Linked DNA regions of Homo sapiens. The protein of the gene in region 1 interacts with the protein of each later gene in a biochemical or structural test. Each region holds a gene or a part of one and is shown on either strand. Other genes may lie near its edges.

Region 1 (7,590 bases):
CACCCATGTGCCCAGACATGAAGTAGTCACTCGACATGTCACATATCACATTTTTGTACCTATTAAATCATCTTGTTAACTGCTTCCTCAAAATGACCTTTGTATTAATGATTCCTTTGGCTGCTCCACTAATCAGTTTTGTATAACCAGATACCTAGATGGATTGATTAAGTCCTTCAACAAATATTTATTGAGTGCCTGCCTAGTACCAAGCATTGTGCTAGTATGGGGGTATATAAGGGTGAATAATGTAGTCAGTGCTCTGAAGGGTCCAAAAGTCTAATGAAATAGTCAAATAACTAAAGAGACCATCCATGATAGTTTACCTAATGAATGCTATGTTAAAGATAAGCATAGGGGTCTGGAGATCACAAGGGGGGGCATCAGCCACTTAGTTGTCCCTCTTAACTAATATTATAAGCATTCCATTTCACATTCAGCTTATTTTCCTTAGTCACTGCTTCCTTCATGCCCCTTCTGTGATCAAAAATATGATTGCTCCTTAATCCATCTCCCTTTAGTTTGTCTCATCTCCCTATCACTTTTCTAACTTTATGTTCCATGCCACCCTAAAGCGAACTTGTTTTTCAGTTCAGGCTCCTTGTATTGCCCCAGGAACATGCCATTTTCATTTCCAATATGGTCTTGTATGAACGATTTCTCCTTTTGTCCTCCCATCTGCTTATCCAAGTCCTGACTATTGTCTAAGGTTTATCTTAGTTCTTAACCATTGCCTCAAAACCTTTTAAGCTTATTGAGCATCTACTTTTCTTTACCTTATAAACATTCAGTTTTTAATTTAGTACTGACTTACATTGATAGTGTTATTTTTGCCACTCCACGGATATTGTGAACTCCTCAGACCAGGCATCCCATTGTGTGATACTTTCGTATACTTCATAGAGGCTAGCACAATGCTGAGCTCAAAAACTAGTTGTTGAATTTCAGTAAAAGTAAGTAGAGCATTTTTCCCAACATTAAAAGTTAGTGGGCATGAGATGACATTCTTTTGGTCTACTGGGAAAAGGGTATCTGACTAAAAGTTAGAAACACTTTTATTTTGCATAAAAATGTAACATTAAAACACAGAAGGAAAAAGAAAATGAATTCACTGAATTCATTTGTCTTTTCCATTGGTTCGTTGTCAATGTCTGATGTCCTGGCCATAATGGAAAAAACAGTTGGCATAAAAGACATGGGTTGAGACTGGCTCTGTCATTTAATATTGGGTTCTGAAAAAAGGCCAATCCTGAGTTGTAGCTTTCTCTCTGTAAAATGGAGTTAATATTACTCTAGATTATGATGAAGATGAAATTAAGTAGTGGATATGGAATGCTTTGTAAATTTGAAAGTAATGTAGAAATCTTGGATAGTGTTGTTGTGTTCCCATCTTGGATGATAGCTGTGAGTTTGCATTTTACAAAAATAATGGATATCTAGAATCACTATAAATAATGATCTACTGACAGTAACTGCTTTGATATTTCCAGGTCAGATTGGCTTTCTTGCCTCTCAGGAGGAGATAGACTTTTACTCTAACAAAGTGATGACCTGGGGGTTTCAGGGCATGCTTCCTGAGGAAGTGACATTCAGACCTGAAGGATGAGTAAAGCTAGTCAGGGGAAAGTATGAGGGAGGGGATAAGGAGATGACGGAGAAAGAATAACTACACTCTGGGAACTGAAAGAAGCTTCATCTAGATGGCTGAATGTTGTCATCTGAAATTGATTGCTTAATCCTGTTAATCCTTTTGATTTTAATTCTTCATGGAAGTGATCTATTAACATTCCTTTATAGCAACAATTGAATAGAATTTATTAACATCTTTTTTTCCTTATCTAGCACAGGTATATTTACTTACTAAAGCCAAAGCGAGAATCTTTTTCTTTAGACATTGTTCCATTGTATTGTGTTCTCTTTAGTTGGCATTTCCTCTGTTGCCATCAGTTACCTCCTTCATGTCCTTTTTGTAAACTATTAAGAGAATTAGAAAATTGGTGTTGGACAGGTTTTTGTTTGCTCTTGTCTGTAAAAACATGGCATGGTTTGAGATGTTTGGAATGGGTTCATTTGGTAATGTTAGGGACCGCTCATTTCTGCTTAAGAAGAATGGAGAGGAAAAACTGGGGAAATATTAGGGTTGGGAGTTCTGGAATAGAAAGCATTCAGAATGGCACTTAGCCTACACAGACTCTAAGTAGGTAGGGGCTGGATAAATGAATGTTCTACATTAGTATAGGCAGAACACATTAAGAGAAAGGAAGACAATGAAAGTGAACAACAAGCTGGTAGGTTAAGGTCCATATGCTGATGATTAGGAACTAAAGCCTCTAAAGAAAACAGGCATCCATGAGGATGCGGGAGCTTAGAAATCTCTTACTAACTTTAACTTTGCTAATTGATCCTTTGATATCATATAGTTTTATATTCATGTATCAGAACTTGCTAACAACCTCAGTAAACTTCATTCAGTTCAGTCCCATAAACAACAACAAAAAAATTGCTACTTATTTCTTGTAAACCATATAGAAGATCTGAGGGATACTTTACAGAGGGATAGGTCAGGCCTGGAAAAAAAGCCCTACCCTCAGGCACTGAGCTAATGGAAGAAAGACCAGGCATTCTCAGTATTTGGCTTGACTTGTAAAAATGCCATTCAGAAACTTGTAGGGAAAATCTGCTTTTAGCACATCACTAGTTGTTGCAGTATTTTTCTGCAATAATCAAAAAAGGCAATTGAAGACAAGGGTTAATCGTTACCAGGTTCTTTAATGCCAGTAAATATGATTGGTGTTAGAAATGTATGCTGACTATAACATTTATTTGTTGATTTTTTTTTCTTTTTTTTTTTTTTGAGATGGAGTCTCGTTCTGTCACCCTGACTGGGGTGCAGTGGCGCGATCTCTGCTCACTGCAACCTCCACCTCCCCAGCTGAAGTGATCCTCCTACCTTAGCCCCCCAGGTAGCTGGGACCACAAGTGCGTGCCACCACACCTGGCTAATTTTTGTATTATTTGTAGAGATGGAGTTTCGCCATGTTGTTCAGTCTGATCTTGAACTCCTGAGTTCAAGCAATCTGCCTGCCTAGGCCTCCCAAAGAGCTGGGATTACAGGTGTGAGTCACCGTGCCCGGCCAGGGAAGTTTTTTTAAACATTTTATTAGTAGTACTGGGTTTATTTTGAGCTATTTATTTTTTCTCTACATTTCCTTTTGAACCAACCACAAATTTGTGAGCCAAGTGATCAGTGGTAGAGGTTCTCTTATTGTGGAATAGAGTTTTGCTCCTGGTGAAGTATAGAGCTCTGTATAGCTAGAATAAAAAATACTGTGAATATCTGAGAAATGTAAAAGATTCTTTGTTATTTTTTAAATCGCCTTAAGAGATAACTGGCTGCTTAAGCAAAAATAGTAACAATGTATTATGTTGTTTCTAAGCAATTTAAAAATATTGTATAACAGCAGCCCAAAAAATGAATGGGAAAGTGGAAATACATATGCAAGGCTCTTAAAATACATGTGCAATGGGCTAATATCACTTGAAGACTGACTGTGATAAATTAAAAGATGCATTGGAAAATAACAAAGGAGTACAGTTAGTAAGACAATAAAGCAGATAAAATGGAATTGTAAGAAATAATATATAAAGAAGTAAAAAAAAAAGTGAACAAAGTGTGATCATTGAAACAAGGAGTTAATGTTCTGTGGGCTGTTTTTTCTGTTGTTGTTGTTGTTCGTTTAACTCACTCCCTACTCTTAGAGCTGAGCGTGAGGGTGGCCTGTATTCCTTTGTATCCAAAGTATTGGTAGGTACCCTTTCTAGAAGAACTCAATTCTGTACTGGAAGTCTTTCGCCAGTACTCAGGATATCTCTCACTTTCTACAATACGCCGTTTTACAGCCCCCACATTCACTCTGCACCTATCTCTATCCCTTCATTAGTACTTTAGGTGAAAAAAGGTTAGTGCTTTTACTTTGTCAAATCTAAGATATTGCATAATGAAGTAGAATGATCTTTGATTTTTCTTCAGTGCTGTCTCAACATACTTTATTTTTTCTTCCCCTTAATTCAGAGACATGAAAAATGCTGTAATTGGAAACAACAAGCAGAAAGCCAATCTCATTGTTTTAGGAGCTGTTCCAAGGTATGTTTGCTGTCTCACCCCTTTCTTGCCATTCATACTAGTTTCTAATGTATTTCTTACTCTCAATTATAGAACCCATTTTTCCTGTATTGTCTGTCTAATTCTTAAAATAAATCCTATTTTTAAAAATAAATGTAAGTATTTAAACTATCTTTAAGGAAAAAAATTATAAAGTAACAGAGAATGTAGTAAGAAGTGAATGTGTTAATACATTTTGGAAACTCAGGAAGACCTTTGACCTGATGACAAAAGGGTTCGTAAAGTACATATGCAATGTACAACAGCCTGATACTTTCTTCTCCATTTCCTTAGAGCCTTGGCAGTTTTTTGTGTGAGTGGGTAATTTATTAGGAGCCTTAAGACCTTTTTGAATTTAAAGGAAAAAAACCCTGCTTGATTTTTAATCCAGTTTCATTTTTTAACTTCTGATTTTTACAACTTGCTGTTTTTTAAGTTAACGTAAGAAGTTTAGGAAGTTTAATTTCTTCTTTTGATGACCTAATAAGCTTCCTTTAGGCAGGCAATGACAGTTACATAACTTCCTCTTTACTTTTGCTCCTCAGAGCTAAGTTTTCTGTGCAATTGCTATTAGCTTTTCATTCAGAATTATTTATTATTTTGTTTTTTTCTCCTTATTTTCTGGTTTTGATACAGAATTAATGGTTTAAGTGTTTTAACTCACCAACCTCAAACATATACTTTAGTAACTATAAAGCTGTCAGCAGCCTTTCTTAGGGGATTTATGTTTGGTATATATAAATAGTGCTTTATGGAGCATGAGGGTCCTGTCTTAGAACATAAGGTAGATGGTTATAAGTGGAGGAAGGTTAGGGTTTGGGGAGTATTTGTTTGGCAAGCTGGGCTGGAGTGGAAATGAGAGGATCTCTTCCTTTTCCAAATGAGAGAGCTGGAGAAAGAAGAAACTACCTTTGCTTGAGGAGCTGCACAAGGGCTCTGAATATTCCCTATAGGCTCGATATCTACAAACTGCACCACTGCTCTGGATTCAGAGCAGTAGCATTTCTAGTTTGAGTTTAAGATCTGGCAGCACATGGCATTTGAGAGTCTTCATATTTTGGAGACCCAGCAGGAAGTGGTAGATGACATGGACTCTGATGACGCTGTTTCTACAGAGACTATCTGTGGACAACTTTCAGATTTACACTTTTTATAAACTCTAAGAATATGATAGTTCTTTTTTTCAAAACCTCTTCTAGATTTTTTTTCCAGATGTTTCTTTAATTAGCAGATGAGATAAACAAATGACCATTGGATTCATATAAACTCAGCCAACCATATTTTTAGTATGTGGACTGCACAGCCTTTTTTGGTCACATTGAGTCTTGTTTAAATTTTTTAGTCTCTTCGTTTATTAAGTTCCTTCTTTTTAGATTGTTGTACTTGCTTCAGCAAGAAACCTCAAGCACAGAGCTGAAAACTGAATGTGCAGTGGTGTTGGGAAGTCTTGCTATGGGTACTGAAAACAATGTCAAGTCTCTACTGGACTGCCATATTATCCCTGCCTTATTGCAAGGTATGTAGGGAAGCCATTTTTGCTCAATTAAGGTTAAGAATCAGTTTGCAGTGCTTTAAATACTGGTTGAAAGGATTAGTCCTAAATCTCATTTCTGTTAATAGGACTACTGTCCCCAGACCTGAAGTTTATTGAAGCTTGCCTCCGATGCCTGCGTACCATCTTCACCAGTCCTGTCACTCCAGAGGAGCTACTGTATACAGTGAGTTTTAGATGTATTTGAGACATTAGTTACATTTCACCAACAGCCTACTCCTAATTTGCTTAGCATCTTCAGACTCATCATAACTGTGTTATGTAAAAAAGTCTCAGTTGGTCATGGTGGCTCACACCAGTAATCCCAGTGCTTTGGGAGGCTGAGGTGGGAGGATTGCTTGAGGCCAGGAGTTCAAGATCAACCAGAGTGACATAACAAGACTCCATCTCTTTTTTTTTTTTTTTTTTTGAGGTGGAGTCTTGCTCTGTCACCCAGGCTAGAGTGCAGTGGCGCGATCTCGGCTCACTGCAACCTTCACCCTGCCAGGTTTAAGCATTTCTCTGCCTCAGCGTCTGGAGTAGCTTGGATTACAGGCGCGTGCCACCACACCCGGCTAATTTTTTGTATTTTTAGGAGAGATAGGGTTTCACCATCTTGGCCAGGCTGGTCTTGAACTCCTGACCTTGTGATCCACCCGCCTCGGCCTCCCAAAGTGCTGGGATTACAGGTGTGAGCCACTGCGCCCGACAACAAGACTCCATCTCTACAAGAAAAAAATAAAAATAAATTAGCCTGGTGCAATGGCTCATGCCTATAGTCCTAGCTCATGAGACTGCAGTGGAAGGATTGCTTGAGCCTAGGAGTTTGAGGTTATACTAAGCTATGATGGTGCCCCTGCACCTCAGCCTAGGTGACAGAATGAGATCCTCTCACTAAAAATAAAAAATGATAAAAGTCTCCGCTGGGTACAGTGGCTCACGCCTGTAATCCTAGCAGTTTGGGAGTTCAAGATGGATATATCACCTGAGGCCAGGAGTTCGAGACCAGCCTGGCCAACACGGTGAAACTCCCATTTCTATTAAAACTACAGAAATTAACCGGGCACGGTGGCACATACCTGCAACACCAGCTACTCGGGAGGCTGAGCCATGAAAATCACTTGAACCCAGGAGGAGACGTTGCAGTGATCTGAGATCACACCACCCTACTCCAGCCTGGGCGACAGGGCAGACTGTCTGCTTTTAGAGACTGTCTCTAAATAAGTACATAAATAAAGTCTCAAAAAGTATTTGAGTTCTTTCTTATTTCCAAATATCAGATGCTCTCAGCTTTGTAAGAAAGTGAAAGATAGTCTCAGACTTTGAGGAATTTACAAGCTATTTTTAAAAAGACCCATTTTTATCTCTCTATATGTAGAACTTAAGTTTATTTTACGCTAGATGAATGATAGGGAGTTCAGCTGACTTTCGGTTGAAATCCAGCAGAGTAGGCTTTGCAGAGAAGCTAGAATTTAATCTGGGTTTTGAATAATGGATAAGACTTAGAGAAGTGGAGAGGAAGGCATGAGGCACCGTGCTCAGCCCAAATTCATTTCTTCTGGCTTTTTTTTTTTTTTTTTTTGGAGACGGTGTCTCTCTCACCGAGGCTGGAGTGCAGTGGAGGAATCTCGGCCCTGCAACCTCCGCCTCCTGAGTTCAAGCAATTCTCCTGCCTCAGCCTCCCGAGCTACTCAGCTGGGCCTACAGGCATGTGCCACCACGCCCAGCTGATTTTTGTGGTTTTAGTAGAGACGGGGTTTCACCATGTTGGCCAGGATGGTCTGGATCTCCTGACCTCATGATCTGCCCGCCTCGGCCTCCCAAAGTGCTGGGATTACAGGCGTGTGAGCCACTGCGCCCGGCCTCTTCTAGCTATTTTTCAATATACAATAGATTA
Region 2 (8,114 bases), on another chromosome or scaffold:
AGAAAAAAAAAAACCTTTTACAAAATAATGAAAGCAAGGGCTTCCAATTCAAGATGGTGAACTATGCATGTTGAATTGAAAGATGGTGAATTCCTGAGGTCAGGAGTTCAAGACCAGCTGGACAACATGGAGAAACCACGTCTCTACTAAAAAATACAAAAAATTAGCTGGGCATGGTGGCGGGTGCCTGTAATCTCAGCTACTCGGGAGGCTGAGGTAGGAGAATTGCTTGAATCTGGGAGGCAGAGGTTGCAGTGAGCTGAGATTGTGCCACCGCGCTCCAGCCTGGGCAACAGAGTGAGACTCCGTCTCAAAAAAGAAAAAAAAAAAAAAAAAAGATGGTGAGTTATTCATCTTTCCCCTCCCCCACAAGGCATTACCCACCACCCTACACCGGACGGCGTTCACAGCATTTGACAGCAAAAAGACACAGCCACAGCCAGGACGCAAGGCTGAGTCCTCATGAGCCACACCTCCGTTTGGTAAGAGGAAGAAACAAGTCCCTTAAAGCAGGATCCAGCCCAGCAATTCTCAGGGGTGTGTGCATGCCCCCAGGGCACATCTAGCAATGTCTGAAGACATTTTGGGGGCATGCTCTTGGCATCTGGCAGGCAGACACCAGGGATGCTGCTAGACATCCTAGACTGCACAGCCCCCACCACCGACAAAGGCTCCTCCAGCCCAAACGTTCGCAGGCCGGTCCACCCCTTTGGTGGAAATAGAAGCTCATGACGACAGAGGTGCCCAAGGTCAGTGCGTGTTGGCTGCAGCAATTCACGTCTGTTCCATTCTCTTCCCACTTCACCAGGAAAATAGAAAAATAAGTACCTGCCAGGCACCCAGGAGCCCCACCAGCCGCCCTGACGCTGTGAGGAAGCAGACATCCCAAGTGTTACTGCTGAAACCCACCTAGGGCTACCAAGCCCTCTGAAGAGAAAGGAATCCCCTGTGAGTCTGTGGAGGACTCACATGGCAGGAAAGCAGTTTAACTATTACCAGGTGAAGATCCAGTCCAGAGCATGCCAGCTGCTACCACCCTGCAGGAGGACTTGCTCTCAGACTAGAGAAGCAGAACATCCACCCCCCACCTTCCACAACCCCGGTCCTGCAGCCCTCGGTCCCTTCTCTGACATCTGCACTGGCCCCTCCTGGAAACTGAAGAGTGCAGCTCTTGAGCTGTGAGCTCAGCATGTTCTGTTTAGTTCTATACCAATAAATGCTTCTAAATCAAGGATCCCTAGTTTCCCAGCAAAACACCTCCATTATCCACTAGGAATCACTCCTGAAAACTTCTATGAAAAAAAGTTTTAACTCAGTAGTGACACAAGTGTCAACAGAGAAATTATGACACTATAATATTTCTTTACCTGTATGACTATCTGCATGACTATTTTAATCAGAAGCTATGCAATCACTCTGGAATACAAATTACATTCACGATTACAAAACAGCAGAAGACCTGAAGAAGAATCCTTTCCGGAGACCTTCCATCTCCCTTCCTAGTTCCTTCAATACACAATGAAAGGATTTCTGGAAACTTTTCCTATCTAGTGTTTCCCACATTCACCAGCCAGTACCAGAAGTGACAAACCACCACGGTTCTGATCTTCAAACCTTCTTGTGTGTTAGCTGAAATGACAGGCCTGGAGGTGCACTGCGTGAGACAAAGTGGTCAGTGGTTAGGACTCCCTACTAATATCACCACAATGTCCTTGTATAGACTTCTCTCAGCTGCAGGGTCTCCATCTCTAAACCAACAGAGATCCACCAATGTCACTGAGTATTAAAAACCAACCACCTACATCTTGGAGGGATCTAGCAAGAGGCTAGACCTTTGGTAACGTCAGCAACATTGCCCTCCCTTCCTTGATCAAAAGAAGTGCTGGACACACAAGCACCATGAAACCCCACTGCGAAACCATTAGTGTGGCGGGCGCGTGGCTCACACCTGTCAGCCCAGCGCTTTGGGAGGTCAAAAGGCAGGAGGATCGCTTAAGTCCTGGAATCCAAAACCACCCTAGGCAACAGTGAAACCCCGTTTCTTTTTAAAAATATGAAATAAACCGCTAGTTAATAAAGAGGAGGAGAAGCTTGCTTCTGCTTTCCTATGAAGACCAGCTACAGCAGGGTACAGCCTGACTTCAGCAGCGCTAACTGTAGCAGGGACCTTTTAATGAATGCTAGGCACTGTTTGAAACAATACGTGGTCACTCATTTCACCCTGAGGTGACACAGGCGCTACCACTGCTTAAACCTGACAAGAATAAACAGTCACCAACCGGGCCCTGATGTCTCCCAGTAAGGACGAATACAGAGAAGCCTGATTCACACCCCAGCAGGATGGCTCACAGCCTGTGCTCTTCAGCCCTTCGCTGAACTGCCCTGGGGCTGGGGGAACGCACAGCAACCTGGCCATACTGCATCCTCCACACCTGTCGCCACACCGTCCGTCCTCAGACGGACGTGAACACCAGGGCGCTCTGGGAGGAGAGAGAAACTACGCAGCTCTCCAGGAAGGCAACACAGAACCACGAAGCTCAGCCGCAGCTCTAGGAAAGCTATGACCTTGATCTTTTAAGGAATTCCTTCCCAGGTGCTTCATATCAAATCCTCTACTAACTAGGTAAAGAACAAGTATCGGCTCCTTCTACTAGGAGCACAAATTTCATTCTAAGAAGTGCGACGTGGCTAGGTGACCACCCAAGGTCACGCAACCGGCAGCCGGACGGCAAGAGCTGTATTTCAGGTTTGGTGACGCCCATCAAAAAGGTCGCTGGGTGCCATCAGGCCGTGAGGTTTCTCCCTACAGTTCCTAACTAGCGACCGGCGCAGCCGGCACCTCCCAGCCCTGGGCTCCCGGGAGGGCGGCCGGGCACTGGCTGGGCACGCCGCGCACTCCGTCTGCCTGGGCGCCAGAGACCCCACGCCCCGCAAACTCCGGCTTCCACCCCAGCCCCAAATTCGCCACCCTTAGCGCTGCCAGAGTCGTCGCTGGCTCGGCTCACGCAGCTCTTCAAGCAGAGGGGCCACAGTCGGGCGCCTGGCAGGGCCAAAGCCGCCGCCCCCGCCACACCTGCCCGGCGCGGACCGGGCGCCCCTGAGAAGCCCGCACGGCCCCGCGAGGCCGCGCCCAGCTCCCGCCGCCCTCGCCGCTGGCCCTCCCGGGGCGGCCCCTCGCGGCCCGAGGGCACTGGCTGGAGACGCCTTCGCTGCCCTCAGCCTGCGCGGCGCAGGCGCCCACCTTGAGGGTCGGGTACTCCTGGACCTTCAGGGTCATGGACAACTGAGCCGCCGACTCCTGCACCGCCATCTTGAAGCGGCCAAAACATTAGCGGGCGGGGGACGCGCGAGCGCGCTGCACGCCGGGAAATGACGCCACGCGCCGGCCGGAGCAGGATGGGGGCGGGCCGATGCCCCTGCACCAATCGTATCCGCCCAGTCGGCCGGAGGCGGAAGAAGGCGCGAACCAATCACTGCCGGGTTTCCTCTCGTTCAGCCAATCAACGATAGCCCCGGCTGGCGGTTTCCACCTTGAATTCGCTACCGGGTTCAGGCCGCAGACGCCGGAGCTGGGGATGCTCCTGGCCCGGGGCGGGCCGATGGGGTGCGGGCTGCGGCCCGGGCGGGTGGAGCTGGGGCCGAGCGGGCTGGGGGACTTGGCGTCCGTCCAGTTACTTGGGGCTCCCGCGGGGTGGTCCCCTGTGGGTCCCTCGTGCCTGCGGTACCAAGGGCAACGCCAACAAAACGCCTGGCCGCATGCGCCTGTAGCCAGCTATTTTTCTTTGGCCTTATTTTGACCGATTTACAGCTGCTGGAATCCTGATGTGGAACCTCCGACTTCCCAACGGAAGAGGAAAGGCCCAGTACCTAAAACTGATTTATGGACAGAAACTCCCGAAGCATGAGAAGCGTGTGGCCTCTCCGCCCTCTCCTTGCAGGGCGGGCAGCGCTGGCATCCAGGTCGTGCGCTGCCTTCATTTCAGCCACTTCACATTCTCAGCCTTTCAAACACCACCCGTCTCCCTCCTTTCCAAAATAAAACTGAAATTAGATTTTATTAATTAGGAAATGACGTCCCAATTAAACCACCTTGTGTTTCACATAACACATTTCTAAACAACTTTTAAAATATTTGGTGTTTAAACAAAGGAAAAACATCTAAGGTGACACAGCGATGAAGGGAGAACCTCCGCTTGGAGGCTGCTACATGTTACAGCCGCAAGACATCCGACCCGCACTGTGGAATCTTTCTCTGTCTTACTTAAACAGGAGTTGGGACTAAGGAAAGTGTTATTCCTCAAGTGTGTGGCTGCAGACTCCAGTCTTTTAGACATTTGAAGTAAGTTTTACAGTGAGGTGCACAAATCTTAACTATACAGCTTTAATGAATTTTCACCCATATTTGCACTTTTATCTAACCGTGTCCTGGTTGAGATTTAGGACATTTCCCGTGGCACAGAAAGCTCCTCTGCCCCTTCCCGGGCTATATCCCCATCATTCTAACCCTGCTCCCCGTAACAGCGTTCCTGACCTTCCTATAGAGATGGAAGCATGCACTCTGTACTCTTTGCGTCCTTTCACGGTTCGCATCGTGTCTGCCACTCTCCGGGATGGTCCCAGTAGTACACAGGAGCACTGCAGCAGTTGGATGGACTGCACTCCTCTTAGAGACTGCCTTCACTTCACCAGGGATTCAAGATTAACCCAAAGGAAAGGACACGGGTTTCATTTCCATGGTAAAATGATCCTATCCTAGTACCATCTACAGTCAGAAATACTTAGGAATTATAAGGCAGAGGTTTGCACGTTGGAGAGGTTGTTTAACCCTCTACAACCTTTGAGTCATTCATTCTAGGTTTTCTTATGTTGGAAGATAAAACTGTATTTGAATTAGTCCTTTTGTAAACCAAAAAGTGTCTGAGACAGATCTCAATCAGTTTAGAAGTTTATGTTGCCAAGGTTAAGGATCATGACCAGTGACACAGCCTCAAGAGGTCCTCAGAACACATGCCCAAGGTGGTTGGGTTACAGCTTGATTTTATACGTTTTAAGGAGATGTAGGCATCAATCAGTACATGTGAGATTTACATTGGTCCGAAAAGGCAGGACAACACAAAGCACAGCGGGGCTTCCAGCTCACAGGTGGATTCAAAGATTTTCTGATTGGCATTTGGTTGAAAGAGTGCTTATCTAAAGATCTGGAATCGAGAGAAAGGAGCATCTGGGTTAAAAGGGGTTGTGGAGACCAACGTTCTTATTACATAGATGAAGCCTCATAGGTGGCCACCATTAGAAGCAATAGATGGCAAATGTTTCATATCTAGATCTTAAAAAGCTGCTAGACTTGGCCGGGTGCTGTGGCTCACGCCTGTAATCCCAGCACTTTGGGAGGCCGAGGCGGGCGGATCACGAGGTCAGAGATCAAGACTATCCTGGCCAACATGGTAAAACCCTGTCTCTACTAAAAATACAAAAATTAGCTGGATGTGGTGGCACTCACCTGTAGTCCCAGGTACTTGGGAGGCTGAGGCAGGAGAATCACTTGAACCTGGGAGGCAGAGGTTGCAGTAAGCCAAGATCACACCACTGCACTCCAGCCTGGGTGACACAGCGAGACTCCTAAAAAAAAAAAAAAAAAAAAAAAAAAACAAGAGCTGCTAGACTCTCAGTTAACCATTAACTTCTTCAGAATCAGAAAAGACCCGGAAAGGAAGGGCAAGGGATTCCCTACAGAATGTAAATTTCTCCCACAAGAGACAGCTTTGCAGGGCCCTTTCAAAATATGTCAAAGAAATATATTTTGGGGTAAAACACTTTGATTTCCTTCAAGGCCAGCTATCTGTCATGTGATGCTCTACTAGAGTCAAGTTGGAATTTGGCATCTTATTGCTACAGAGTCTGTTTTGTCAGTCTTAAGATCTCTGTTTTAATGTTAATGCTGGTAAGTTTTGTGCCTGAACTCGAAAGGGAGGAGGGGATACTGAGGCATGTCCAACTCTCCCTTCACGTTAATAGTGGCAGGAGGCAGACCGAGCAGTTACCCAGTGAAACCCGACCTTCAAGCCGAAGACAGTTTAAAGCCGACCTACAAGTCCCAGGTAAATCCATGGACTAGATTGGGAACCTGTCTTCCTGCCTGGCATGCTTTCCTCTGATTGGTCCCCACCCTTCACCTATTTTACATATACCTATCCTTCCCTAATTGGCTTTTTGTTTGTTGGTTGGTTGTTTTTTTGGTTTTTTTTTTTTTTGAGATGGAGTCTCGCTCTGTCTCCCAGGCTGGAGTGCAGTGGCACGATCTCGGCTTACTGCAAGCTCTGCCTCCCAGGTTCACGCCATTCTCCTGCCTCAGCCTCCCGAGTAGCTGGGACTACAGGCACCCGCCACCACGCCCAGCTAATTTTTTTTGTATTTTTAGTAGAGATGGGGTTTCACCGTGTTAGCCAGGATGGTGTCAATCTCCTGACCTTGTGATCCACCCACCTCAGCCTCCCAAAGTGCTAGGATTACAGGCGTGAGCCACCGCACCCAGCCCCTAATTGCTTTTTACACTGTTGTCCCCACCTTTGAGTGATGCCTTTGTTTTAGCCATTTTTGCATCCTCACAAACCAATCAGTGTGCACTCTGAGCCCATGAAAGCCCCAAACCCAGCCACATGGAGAGAGAAACCATCCGACTTCAGGTGGGGGACCACCCTCACATCCCTGCTCCACTGAGAGCTGCTTTGTCACTCAATAAAATTCTTCTCCATCCTCCTCACCCTTCAATTGTCAGTGTATCATCATTCTTCTTGGACGTGGGACAAGAGCTCAGGATGCACCAAATGTGAATACAGAGAAGGCTGTAACTCCATAACCCTTTGCCCTTCACCAGCAGAGGGCAGCCACCCCATGTGACAGAAGCAGCAGTGGGACTGAGCCAGCCCTGGAGCCATGGGCTGATGCGGGGCAAGCGGCTGACAGAGCTGTTGACGCACCACTGTCCATCAGGATGCAGACTAAAAGAGCTAATTAGCATGCTGTAACACCCCCTCTGGGGCTTCAGGATCACAGCACCCCTACCTGGGCGCCACCGTGTTCCCCTTGTCTGGACGCCGGAGTCCACCATGGGAGTGGCTTGCAACATGCCTGGTCCAGCCACAAGCCCTGCATGGAGCCTGCGTCTGTGCTGACACTTGGAACCGTTGGCTGGACCCCGCACTCACTCGCTCACACCCCCTCCCACTGGGGGCTGAGTGCACAGTCGGAACAGCCGCAAACGCTGGAGTGCGGGCCTGGCATGACATGATGGGCCAAGTGAATGGGCATCTCCTGTGGCAAACCTGGGCCTGAGCAAGGGTGTCGCTGGCTGGGGGTCTCTGGCTGACAAGTGACCAAGAAAAGTCATGCGCCGCCATCGTGTCCTGAACTGATTTTTCAGGTTTCTTTGAAACCCCCTTGGCTGAAGGTGGGGGTAGGGGGTTCCATTCAGTCAGTTGGGGGAGCTTAGTATCTTATTTTTGGTTTATATAACTTGAAATTGTCCAGCTGTCAGACTCTGCCACCAACTGGCTATCCTACAATCCAACCCCATTCACACTCACTCGCAGAGTTAGCACAGACCCCACAGGCCAAGGGCTCCGTTCCACAAGGCTGTCCCCACTCCAGGTGACGGCTGCACATGGGGTGCCCAGGCCACCCACAAGGCAGATGACACATTTGGGGCTCCCACAAACCCTTCCTCAGGTTCAATAATTTGCTAGAATGACTCACAGAGCTCAGGAAACACTTAATGCTTCCCAGCTTATTATGAAGGACACAGCTCAGGAATAGCTAACGGGAGTGCATCGGGCATGGTGGGGCGAGGAGCTCCCAAGCCTTCTCTGCGCGGCAGCCGCTCAGCACTTCGGGGCATCCACCAGCCAGGAGGCTCTCCTGAATCTCATTATTCACACATTTTCATATCTCAATCCCCAGCCCCCCTCATCCCCAGAGGTGGAGGTGGAGTGGGAGAGGGGCTGAGAATTCCTGCCAACCAATCTCCGGGTCTTTCTAGTGATATCTGGAGGCCCCACCCAGAGTCACTTCATTAACATAAACTCAGGTGTGGTGGGAAGGAGTTCCTTATGAAGAAA

What was found.
Region 2: the proteins of ARMC8 (region 1) and MAEA form a complex in vitro, tested with the Homo sapiens proteins (one study listed by BioGRID).

Annotation. Positions count from the first base shown.
Region 1 is NC_000003.12:138,217,854-138,225,443, forward strand, and holds part of ARMC8 (armadillo repeat-containing protein 8), read left to right. Parts: intron 1-4,072; coding exon 4,073-4,144; intron 4,145-5,535; coding exon 5,536-5,678; intron 5,679-5,782; coding exon 5,783-5,880; intron 5,881-7,590. UniProt on the Homo sapiens protein: Component of the CTLH E3 ubiquitin-protein ligase complex that selectively accepts ubiquitin from UBE2H and mediates ubiquitination and subsequent proteasomal degradation of the transcription factor HBP1.
Region 2 is NC_000004.12:1,285,110-1,293,223, reverse strand, and holds the start of MAEA (E3 ubiquitin-protein transferase MAEA), read right to left. Parts: upstream 3,334-8,114; 5' UTR 3,311-3,333; coding exon 3,242-3,310; intron 1-3,241.